Linked DNA regions of Homo sapiens: region 2 is linked to region 1. A link means that fine-mapping ties the variant in region 1 to the expression of a gene that starts in the linked region. Tissue or cell type: lymphoblastoid cells. Region 1 holds a variant in brackets; the other region holds the start of a gene. All regions are shown on one strand. Distances are from middle to middle. Region 1 overlaps LINC03124 (long intergenic non-protein coding RNA 3124). Region 2 holds the start of LINC03124 (long intergenic non-protein coding RNA 3124).

Region 1 (5,383 bases):
TGAGTCTCAAACTAAATGCAGACTTCACTATATATACATAATATCACTATGCACAGGTAGTTTCCAAGTTTATTTTTATTTTCTTTAGTCAATGTATATCAGGTCAAAAGTTAGGCTTTTTTTTAACCATTGAAAAACTCACTTGTGTCTGTTATCTGTAGAGTACAGTTTGATGTATCAAGGAAAGAGAAAAGTTACTTTTCTTATAAATAAGTACTATGGTCTTAACTGAGATCAGTTCATTAATTCATCAGTGCATTCATTTAATTTTATCATATATTATTGTTACAACCAAAAGCAAACCTTGATAAACTCCAAATCTGATTAATTTTTCTGTATTAATGATCTTAAGTTAATGGTACCCTTACCCATCTAAGTGAAAATTGGAATCCATCTTAGACTCCCCTGTTATATGTTAACACTTCCTATCATTTCTGTTAGTTAATTCCCATCCTCATTTTAAAATTACTAATGCCTTTTTCTTAGTTCAGCAGCTTATGGTGTCTTACCCAAACCTTTGCAGTGGTTTTTCAGTTTTATCTTTGTCCACACTTGCCTACCTATCTCACCTCCAAATTGCTGCCAGCTATTTTCCTTAACTATGAAGCTGATCGTTTAACTTTCCTGCTCAAAATTATTTAGTTATACCACGTTATGCAAAAAAACAAAGGCCAGTTTCCTAAAGGTCTGTTTACAATCTGGTCTTCGCCTGTTTTTTTTTTTTTTTTTTTTTTTTTTTTTCCTGCTAAACCTACACACTGAAGAAAGTTTTGTCAAGCATCTGTGCTGTATCATATTAAGATTCCACCTGGAATGTTTTTTTACCCCTGTCTACTGAACAATTCCTTTTCATCCTTCAAGCATAGTCTTATGGTTCATTTTATTCTTTTAGTGAATACTTCTATGATAGTCTTTCTTCTCTATTTGTCTTTCTTTCCCTGTTACTTATAGTAATTACTTTTATTACTCTCAAATCTGTATTTTAGATATTCTCTATTGTTCTCATAACTGTTTCTCTAGTGAAACTTCCTTGAGTGTGTATATGTTGTCTGTCTTTATATATCCATGATCCAAGGTTGGGACAGGGTACTTGGCATAAAGTAGGCTCTTAGTACATTTTTTGAATGAATGAAATACTCTGAAAGGTAAATAATAATCAATTTTAGCATAAATGAACCTCATCATGAGGACATAGTAGATAAAATCATAATAGTAGTTTAGTTAATGGTGTGTTATTTATGGGTGCTGAATACATTGGGAACTTTTCTTCGTAGTTTTCATGTATTATCTGTTTATAATATTCACAAGGAATCCACAAAGTAGGCATTATTATTCCCCTTTTTCAGGGAGATGAAAATAGATTCGGAGATGCTAAGTAATTTGCCAAAAGCCATAGAGCTAGTAATTTGGGAACCCAATTCATGTCTTTAGGAAGTAAAATTTATCCTGCCCAGTACATTAAGTTATCTGAAGTAGTAAGAACTCAGTAAGTATTATTTGAATGAGTACTTTTTTTATCGTAAGTACACCAATAAGTATAATAATATATCTAGTATTTATCTTAAAATTGTCTTTGGGCAGGAAATCTTTGCCTATATATAGGTATTTATTTGTGTCTCTTCTCTTTAGAAATGTAAAGTTATTACACATTTTATTCCAGAATATAAAGATTGTGTCTTCTGTGTTATGTAGATAGCATTCTTGTTGGATAGTTTCAAACTCAGTGAAGGTAATATGTGCAAACTAATTCTTATACATGTAAAATTCTGTAAGATTTTCCTTAAATTTATTTGAAGCTCTTTTTTATGGTTTCTTCTTGATAATTTTGTAATATTTAGAAACAATGGTTAAATGACTACTTTAAAGATTTTCTCTTCTAATTTTAATCAGGGCTAACATATATGTCAGTTTCGAATCAAGTGAAAGACTTAGTTTGCAATAAATTAATGATTTCCTGGAATGAAAAACCTTAAAAAGGATGTGCATTTTAGACAGTTAAATGTCTTGACCTTTACACTGTTGTTTTGTATTACTGACTTTTTTGAGTTCTTTAACACACTATTTTTTTTCTTTTTCTTTTTCTTTCTGTTTTTTTTTGTTTTTTGTTTTTTGTTTTTTTTTTTTTTTGAGACAGAGTCTTGCTCTGTTGCCCAGGCTGGAGTGCAGTGGTGCAATCTTGGCTCACTGCAACCTCTGCCTCCCAGGTTCAAGGGATTCTTGTGCCTCAGCCTCCCGAGTAGCTGGGATTACAGGCAGATGCCACCACGCCTGGCTAATTTTTGTATTTTTAGTAGAGACGGGATTTCACCATGTTGGCCAGGCTGGTCTCAAACTTCTGACGTCAGTTGATCTGCGCACCTTGGCCTCCCAAAGTGCTGGGATTACAGGCATGAGCCACCGTGCCCTGCCTATTTTTATTTTCTAAATTGAAATGAAAAAAATTGAATTTTGCTCAAAGTATTTTAGATACCTTGAAATGACTAATATTTTAGTGATTAAGGATTATTATAACTTTTTATTTCTCAAAATATATATGAAATAATTGAATAGTGCATTGAAGTAATCTGTAGAACAAAGTTTGTGTTTTATATTTTGGTAGGAGGGAGAAACCAGTTAATTTTCCCC[CCTTAA/C]CTTCAGAAAGCATACTTGTTCAAATGTTTATAAATCATTTGTATTTTTCTATACTTTAGAAAAAAATATTTCTATATTCTCTATTTTAGGATATTAACTCTCAAGAGACTAAAGGTTGTTTCAGAAATCAAACCATCCATATTAAAATAGATACTTAAAATGCTATTTGATAGCAGTAACTATAAAATGGGCACTTAATATGAACTCATTTATTGATTCTTAATAAACACACATTATTAAGTTATTAAATATATAATTATCACTGGATTTACTAAATCTTAATTGTGAGATTGAAACTACCTAAATCATATTATAAATGCTAAGATGTTGTTTCTTTGACAGATCTTTTCCTGACCATGTAATCCAAAGTAGAATCCTACTTTATTCTTTTTCAGTTTATACTGTTCTTTTTCTCTTCACTGTAATCACCATGATTTATAATTCTACATTTGTTTAATTGTGTCATATATATTTCTTTTATAGCTCATAACTTCTAGGAGAACTGGTTAGCCTTGGGTATCTGCAGTGCCTGGCACAATGTAAATTTTAAATGAATGAACACAAATGAATTGTATTTCCACAATTTTGAATCTTGGTATAGTGGAAAGAATATTACTCTGGAGGTCAAGGGGCTGTAGTTCTTGTCTTCTCCATGAATATTCTTTATGTGCCACTTCTACCATCTGTGAAATGAGGGATGGGAGGGGGAACTTGAGGAAGTGGTATTAGATGATCATTAATAGTCCTGTCAGCATATTATTGTAGGGTTTTATGAATATTATAATTGCATTTTAGACCATAATAACCAAACATTACATATTGATATATTTAATTTTTTTATTTAAGTGGTACATGATCAGCATTGTCCACATTTACAATCGATGGAGAAACAGTGAAATTCAGTGTTATGTTAATGGACAACTGGTATCTTATGGTGATATGGCTTGGCATGTTAACACAAATGACGTAAGTCTTTATTTTTCTCTCTGTGTTTTAATTTGTTTGAGAGTATGATCTATCATTACAAAATGAATTGAATAATAAAATAGTTTGGTAGAAACTTAAAACTTTGGAAGTTTATTCTTTTTATTAAACAAATCTTTCACTGTTAAATTTAATATAAGAAAATTGCTAAAAGACATGATTAGGGATGCAAAAACAGGAACATTTGGCCAAAGTTTTAAGTTTTTTAGATAAAAAACCGCGAATCCTGTATTCTATTTATTCCAGCATCAAGCACTAAAAAATGTGGTTTACCCCTTATTTAGATATAGAAAGAAGACCCTAAACAGAAGTGTAACATATAGTCACTATTATTAATTACATAGTGATAAATGCTATGGAGAAAATAAATTGGGGATACAGAAAGTGTAGTTGTAGGGAAGGGGGGAGCCGGATGGTCCAGAGATGATTTTAGTAGGAAGAGGTGAACAAGCAAGGTATGTGGGGAACTTCTTCTATCCAGTGGGAACAGTGAGTGTAAAGGCTTTGAGGCAGAATAGGAAAGTTCAAGGAAAAGGCAATTTGTCTGGAGCAGAGGTAGGTAGAAGCAGAATAATATTAAGAGATAAGGTTAGGCAGAAATCATTTTGGCCTTCATAAGCAAACATAAGGCCTGGGCTTTTGCATCTTACTCAGCTTAAAAATCCTTGGAAGGTTTTCAGCAGACAAGTGATGTGTGCTTATATTTTAAAAGCATCAGTCTGCCTGCAGTATTGACAATATTTTGAAGGGAAATTACAGAAGCAGGAAAATCACTTAAATGGCTTATTGCAATAAAACAAAGAGATTATATTAGTTTCTACCAGTATGTTAGCAGTGGAAGAAGTGACACAGTTGGATTCTAGATAGTGAAAAACTCGAATTAAAACCTCAAGTGTCCTTACGGTTTCTCTACTTTGGGCTTTCCATTGTCTACATTCTGGCCTGTCAGAGCCAAAGTAAAAGGTTTGTTTTAATGCTGAAAGTACCTGCAAGCTCAATAATATACAACCCTTCACGCTTACCTGGTTTTATAAGAACTTACCTCTTAAATACAATTCATTTTTCAGTTTTGTTTGCATGTCTATAGGCTTTAATCTCCCAAAGGGCAGGGATTTGCTTATCCTGTCTTGTATTCTTTTAACTAGCACTGTGTGTATGGTCCATAGGTTGTCCCCTAGATCGGGGCTTGGCAGACTACACCCTATGAACCAAATCTGACCCTCCCCCTGTTTCTGGTTTCGTGTAAGCTGGGGGCAAAGACTCTTGGCTTTTAATTTTTAAAGGTTTTTTGTTTGTTTGTTTTTTTCTTGAGATACAAACAAAATCAAAGAAGAATGGGACAGCAACCAGGTGTGGCAAGCAAAGTTTAAAATACTTTCTGTCTGTCCCTTTGTAGAAAAAGTTGCTTTTCCCTGCCATAGAAACTCATGGTTGTGCCACAACCAATTAATATTTAATGGAATGTTGTTTTCAGAATTAGAATACACAGATGAAATTCTGCTTTTTATCTTCTCTCCAGAGGAGATCTTCTCTCCAGAGTCTTTTTATTATAGAGTGGAAGAAATCCCAGTGGTCTTCTTGACTCATTCAATGATAAGACAGTATCTTGGAAAGAAAATACTTAGTTTTTTGGTTATTTATAATAGTGCCCTAAGAAGTGGAGAATTCTAGATAATAACACATATATACATACTTTATGCAGTTAAAGTTTAAGTTCCTATACTTCTAATTAAAGATTGGGTATTTAATGATGACAGTTCTTTTTGCC
Region 2 (5,383 bases), 51 kb before region 1:
AGCATCAAGAAATTGGATTCATTTACCTGGGACATAAAATAAGGTATACCTATAGTTTTGTCCCAGAACTGTGTAAACCGGCATGCTGCCTGCCACAGTACAGTCCTCCCCCTGCATCAGGAGCTCAGATGGGGGAAGCCAGCAGGGCTGGAGGCCTGGGAGTCACAGATGCTTGGAGGGGAGAGAAAAGCACCACAGAGAGCCAGGCAGGACCTGCCTACAAGTCACATTTTTAGGGGTCTAGTGGTCTGGGCAGGCTGGGAGATGCTCTCTAAAGGGAAGGCAAGAAATATTGCCCCACATCTCCCACCACCAAACAGAAAGTGCAGGTGGTCAGCCCCAGGGCTCACCTGCCCTTTGCCAGGGTCATGAGCTAGGCCCAGCCTGCACCCTCCACACAACCATCAAGGGGACTTCCTGTCAGGCTGGGACAACTGCACCGGGCCCTGATGCCCTGGGAAGAACAGGGTTGCATTTAACAGAAACAGCTAAACCTGAAGGGATGAGCTTGCCTTTCCCCAGGGCCATGGGATGGTTTATAGAAAGTTCTACCCATCAGGACGAGACCTCACATGACACCATCAGAGGAATTGATACCATGCCATAGAGGGAGGAAGAGGGCGCATGCCATAGGTCCACTGGTCACAGCACACACATGCTCCTGGGAGCTTCAGACCCAGCAGTTTGGCTCAGGTGCCAGGTCAGGATGTGGGAGGACACAGTGTCTGGGTGAATCTGTCACCCTTGCTAGCTGCCTTGTCCCACCAGGTAGAAGATGCGGCAATGGGAGCACAGCAGTAGGAAGCCCAGTGTCCCCCAACCTTCCACCTCACACCCAGGACCTCTGAGGTGCATCTATATCCTGCACATCTAGGCTCTGAAAAGCAGGAGGTCCTGGTTTCCACAGCTGTGGGGCTTCTAGACAGGACAAGGCCAAATTCTCTGAAAAAACAAGCTCTGGGTGCTGCTTTGTCCTCAGGCTGCTCCTCCATGGGACCTGCGGGCAGAAAAATGTGTACCACCTGGACCGTGGTTTCAGCAGAAGCAGGGTTATGCTGCCTGGGGCAGGAGGGGCTCTACACAAGCGCCTCTCAATACACAGCATTTGATGGTACGTGGACAAGTGTGGGAGCCCTAGACCAAGGACTCCGTGGTGAGCAAGACTCAGGACCCCTTAGGGGTGAGGGCCTGGGTTACACCACCAGGGGGTCACCCGGACCCTCAGCAGAAGGTGGAGGGGGTGGTGATCATTACCTTTGTGACCCTGCAATGGGTGGCAGCCACAGGACATAGGGTTCATTGAACGCACCTTGTGTAACTATTGCCCAGGAAAAGGCCCAGAATTTAATAAAGATGAGGCCCCTGGCAGTGAAGTGCTGGATGAGGCGCACCCCCTGGGGCATACCTGAACCTCCCCCAGGGCCTCGGCTGTGAGCTTTGATTATAGACACACCTGTGCCACAGCCCCTTCAGACTGCTCCCTTCACCTCTGAAAAACCAGACAGGATGCTTCTGTTCCTGGAAATGTGAATGCCCTTCGTGTGTTTTTTACTTTGACTATAAACTCATCTGCAACCAAAATATAGACTCCCACACAATAATAACGGGAGACTTTAACACCCTAATGTCAACATTAGACAGATCAACGAGACAGAAAGTTAACAAGGATATCCAGGAATTGAACTCAGCTCTGCACCAAGCAGACCTAATAGACATCTACAGAACTCTCCACCCCAAATCAACAGAATCTACATTCTTCTTAGCACCGCACAGCACTTATTCCAAAATTGACCACACAGTTGGAAGTAAAGCACTCCTCAGCAAATGTAAAAGAACAGAAATTATAACAAACTGTCTCTCAGACCACAGTGCAATCAAACTAGAACTCAGGATTAAGAAACTCACTCAAAACCACTCAACTACATGGAAACTGAACAACCTGCTCCTGAATGACTACTGGGTATATAACAAAATGAAGGCAGAAATAAAGATGTTCTTAGAAACCAATGAGAACAAAGACACAACATACCAGAATCTCTGAGACACATTTAAAGCAGTGTGTAGAGGGAAATTTATAGCACTAAATGCCCACAAGAGAAAGCAGGAAAGATCTAAAATTGACACCCTAACATCATAATGAAAAGAACTAGAGAAGCAACAGCAAACACATTCAAAAGCTAGCAGAAGGCAAGAAATAAGTAAGATCAGAGCAGAACTGAAGGAAATAGAGACACAAAAAACCCTTCAAAAAAATCAATGAATCCAGGAGCTGGTTTTTTGAAAAGATCAACAAAATTGATAGACCGCTAGCAAGACTCATAAAGAAGAAAAGAGAGAAGAATCAAATAGACGCAATAAAAAATGATAAAGGGGATATCACCACTGATCCCACAGAAATACAAGCTACCATCAGAGAATACTACAAACACCTCTACACAAGTACACTAGAAAATCTAGAAGGAAATGGATAAATTCCTGGACACATACACCCTCCCAAGACTAAACCAGGAAGAAGCTGAATCTCTGAATAGACCAATAACAGGCTCTGAAATTGAGGAAATAATTAATAGCCTCTCCCTGGGAATGGGCGGGCCTGGGTCCAGTCCACAGGGCCCCTCGTGGGCCCTGATGAAGGAAAGAGTTGAGATGGGGGCAGCGCTGGACCCCAGGGCCCCTGCCTGCCTCCTGGAGAGCCCGGTGACCCAGGCAGCCCTGGTGAGGCTGTGGGTGCCTGGGCCATAGCGAGGCCCGCGAGCTCCCACAGGACAGATGCGGACAGTGAGGCCGGGGAGGCCCTGCTGCCCTCCGAACTGTCCCTCCAGCCCCCAGCTTTCTGTGGTTCTCTGGGCCCCCTCTGCAGAGGGGCAGGGGAGCCCACCCTGGATCCTGAGACGCCAAGCTTGAGGGACCCCCAGAGCTCTAGCGAGGCTGCTTCCTTTGCGGATGGTGAAGCTGAGGTCCAGAGGAGGGCAGGGGCAGGTCCTGGGCGCTCCCTAGGCAAAGGGAGCCGATCTCCGGGAGGCGGTCACAGGGAGCGCTCCTGCGACTTCTAGGGCCCGAAAGCTGGGGAGGATGAGAGACCAGGGGCCTTTCGTCGTCCCCTGGGCTGGGCAGAGGCTCAGCCTGTGCCGCAACCCTAAGCGGCTTCTGGCAAGTCCGAGCCGCGGTCCCTTTAAGAGGGGGTGGAGCTTCAACCTGGCACTAGGGATGCTGCTAGCGTGCGTGTCCCTACGGAGCTGAGACTGCAGTTCCTGCGACGCCCCTGCAGCAGCAGCAGCGTGGTCAGAGCGAGCTTCTGAGCGGTGGTGGGTTCCATGTGATGGTGGAGTAGGAGACAGGTCTCCGCGGTCAGTGGCGGGGGCGTGGACCCCACCGGGAACCCTCCCTGCTCCTTCCCTGCCTCTCCCTGTTTTCGTGCCCGCACTTCTTCGTGGGCATCTGGGCCCGAGTCCTCCGCTTGGGGGCGGTTGTGCGGTCCTGGCTACTGCAGCGTCCGCACCCCGGCCGGGAAGGCTATGCCAATGTCCGACCCGCGTCCAGCGTATAGGAGCGCCCTGGCCCACAGCTGGCGGTAAAACGCGGGACCTGGGTCCCTCGGAGCCCCAGGGGCCTCTGAGCTGGAGTCTAGGATTATTTTTGATGCCTCAGCACCTTTAAAAAGAGACCTCGCTAGAGCAGGGGGCATCTGTATTTTCAGTTCTTTGAGGAGTCTCCAGCTATTTAGCTGTTTTCCATGGTGTGTATCCTAATTTTCATTTCCACCTACAGTGTATGAGTTTCCCTTTCTCCAAAACCACACCCGCATTCCTACTATTTTTGGTTTGGGGTTTGTTTTGTTTTTGTTTTTGTTTTGAGACGGAGTCTTGCTCTGTCTTACAGGCTGGAGTGCAGTGGCGCCATCTCGGCCGACTGCAACCGCTGCCTGGTTTTAAGCAAGTCTCCTGTCTCAGCCTCCAGAGTAGCTGGGACTACAGGCGCCGCCACCATGCCCAGCTCATTTTTGTATTTTTAGTAGAGATGGGGTTTCACGATATTGGTCAGGCTGGTCTCAAACTCCTGACCTCAGGTGACCCACCTGCCTCAGCCTCGCAAAGTGCAGAGATTACAGGCATGAGACACCGTTCCCAGCCCCTCCTATTTTTTTAAAAAAATCAAGGAATATTCGATAAGTGTGAGATTATCTGTGTGTGGTTTTGAATTACAGTTTTCTAATGAATAGTTGATTTTGAGGACCTTATCTCTTATTTGTTGTTCGATTTTATGGCTGTGCAGAATTGTCTGTTCAGGTTCTTTGCAAAATATTAGATTGGATGCTTTTGCTACTTTGTAGTGTTTTTTGTGTACATATTAGATGACAACTCCTCGTGAATTACAAGATTGCCTGAAATTTTTGCCTAATCTATAGGATGCTTTTTTAATTGGAAAGTAGTTTTCTTTGATGTGCAGAAACTTTTCATGTTGATGTAGTCAACATGATATTTATTTTTGCGTTTCATGCATGTAATTTTCGTCACCCATATAAGAAAATAATATGTCAGTGACAAAGCATTTAATTGTCAATGAGGTTTTTCTTCCAGGGTGTTTATTTTCCTCTTTGCAAAGGTGAGCAGAGATTCAAGTGACCCAAAATATATGCTCATCCTGTGTTTTAGTTAAAAACATTTTGTAGTTTATGGTCTTTTGTTTTGCCTTCAATTTGGGGGAGTGGGTGTTCATTTTCATACATCGTGTAAAATAAGGTCCTATTTCTCGCTTCTGCATCTGGATATCATTTTTGTCAAAGGTATTCATTCTCTGCCTTCCACATTGCAGTGTTCTTTATCAAAGTCAGTTGATTGTGTCCATATTTGTGTTGATCATGTTTTTGTCCTCCCTGTTTTTGTCCATAGTTTATGCAAGTATCATATATCAGCTGTATAACTACAACTTGGCAGTGTAATTTGATATTAAGGATTGTGGGTCTTCACTTTGTATTTCTCAGGATTCCTTTAGATATTCATTGCTTTTGTGGTTCCCTGTGATTTTTAGCAATACGTATTTATTTCTGTTAACTTTTTTTCACAACATAAAGGTCCATAATTAGGGGTACATTTTCATACATACAGATTGGGTAATGATCAAATCAGGGTACTTAGGATCTCTATTTGCTCATCCAGGTTTTTTTTTTTTTTGTGGGGAGAACATTCAAAATTCTCCCTTCTTACTCTAGAAAAATATGATATTGTTAACTCCAGTCACCAGGCTGAGGAGGAGAACCTCAGATTTGTTCCTTTAATGTTAAGATAACTTTGTTTCCATAATCAATCCTTCCCCATTCCCCCTCTATCTCCCAAACTCTGGTAACCAATATTGTGCTTTTTACTTCATTAAGATAAACATCTTA

Evidence for each region. PIP is the estimated chance that this variant, and not a neighbour inherited with it, causes the effect.
Region 2: LINC03124 starts here. The variant in region 1 is the best candidate, but not a certain one, in a credible set for the expression of LINC03124 in lymphoblastoid cells (GTEx, PIP 0.58).

The regions. Positions count from the first base shown.
Region 1 is chr2:131,730,356-131,735,738 of GRCh38, forward strand. The region is part of intron 6 of LINC03124 (long intergenic non-protein coding RNA 3124); the gene reads left to right. It also overlaps the pseudogene NBEAP2. Among named protein-coding and RNA genes, the nearest start is that of LINC03124, 51 kb to the left of the region's middle. The variant CCTTAA/C (reference allele first, on the strand shown) is at 2,626.
Region 2 is chr2:131,679,253-131,684,635 of GRCh38, forward strand. It overlaps LINC03124 (long intergenic non-protein coding RNA 3124), which reads left to right and starts at 3,247. Exons shown (of 10, transcript NR_167889.1): 1 at 3,247-3,736. RefSeq lists an enhancer at 2,680-2,799 and a silencer at 3,170-3,219.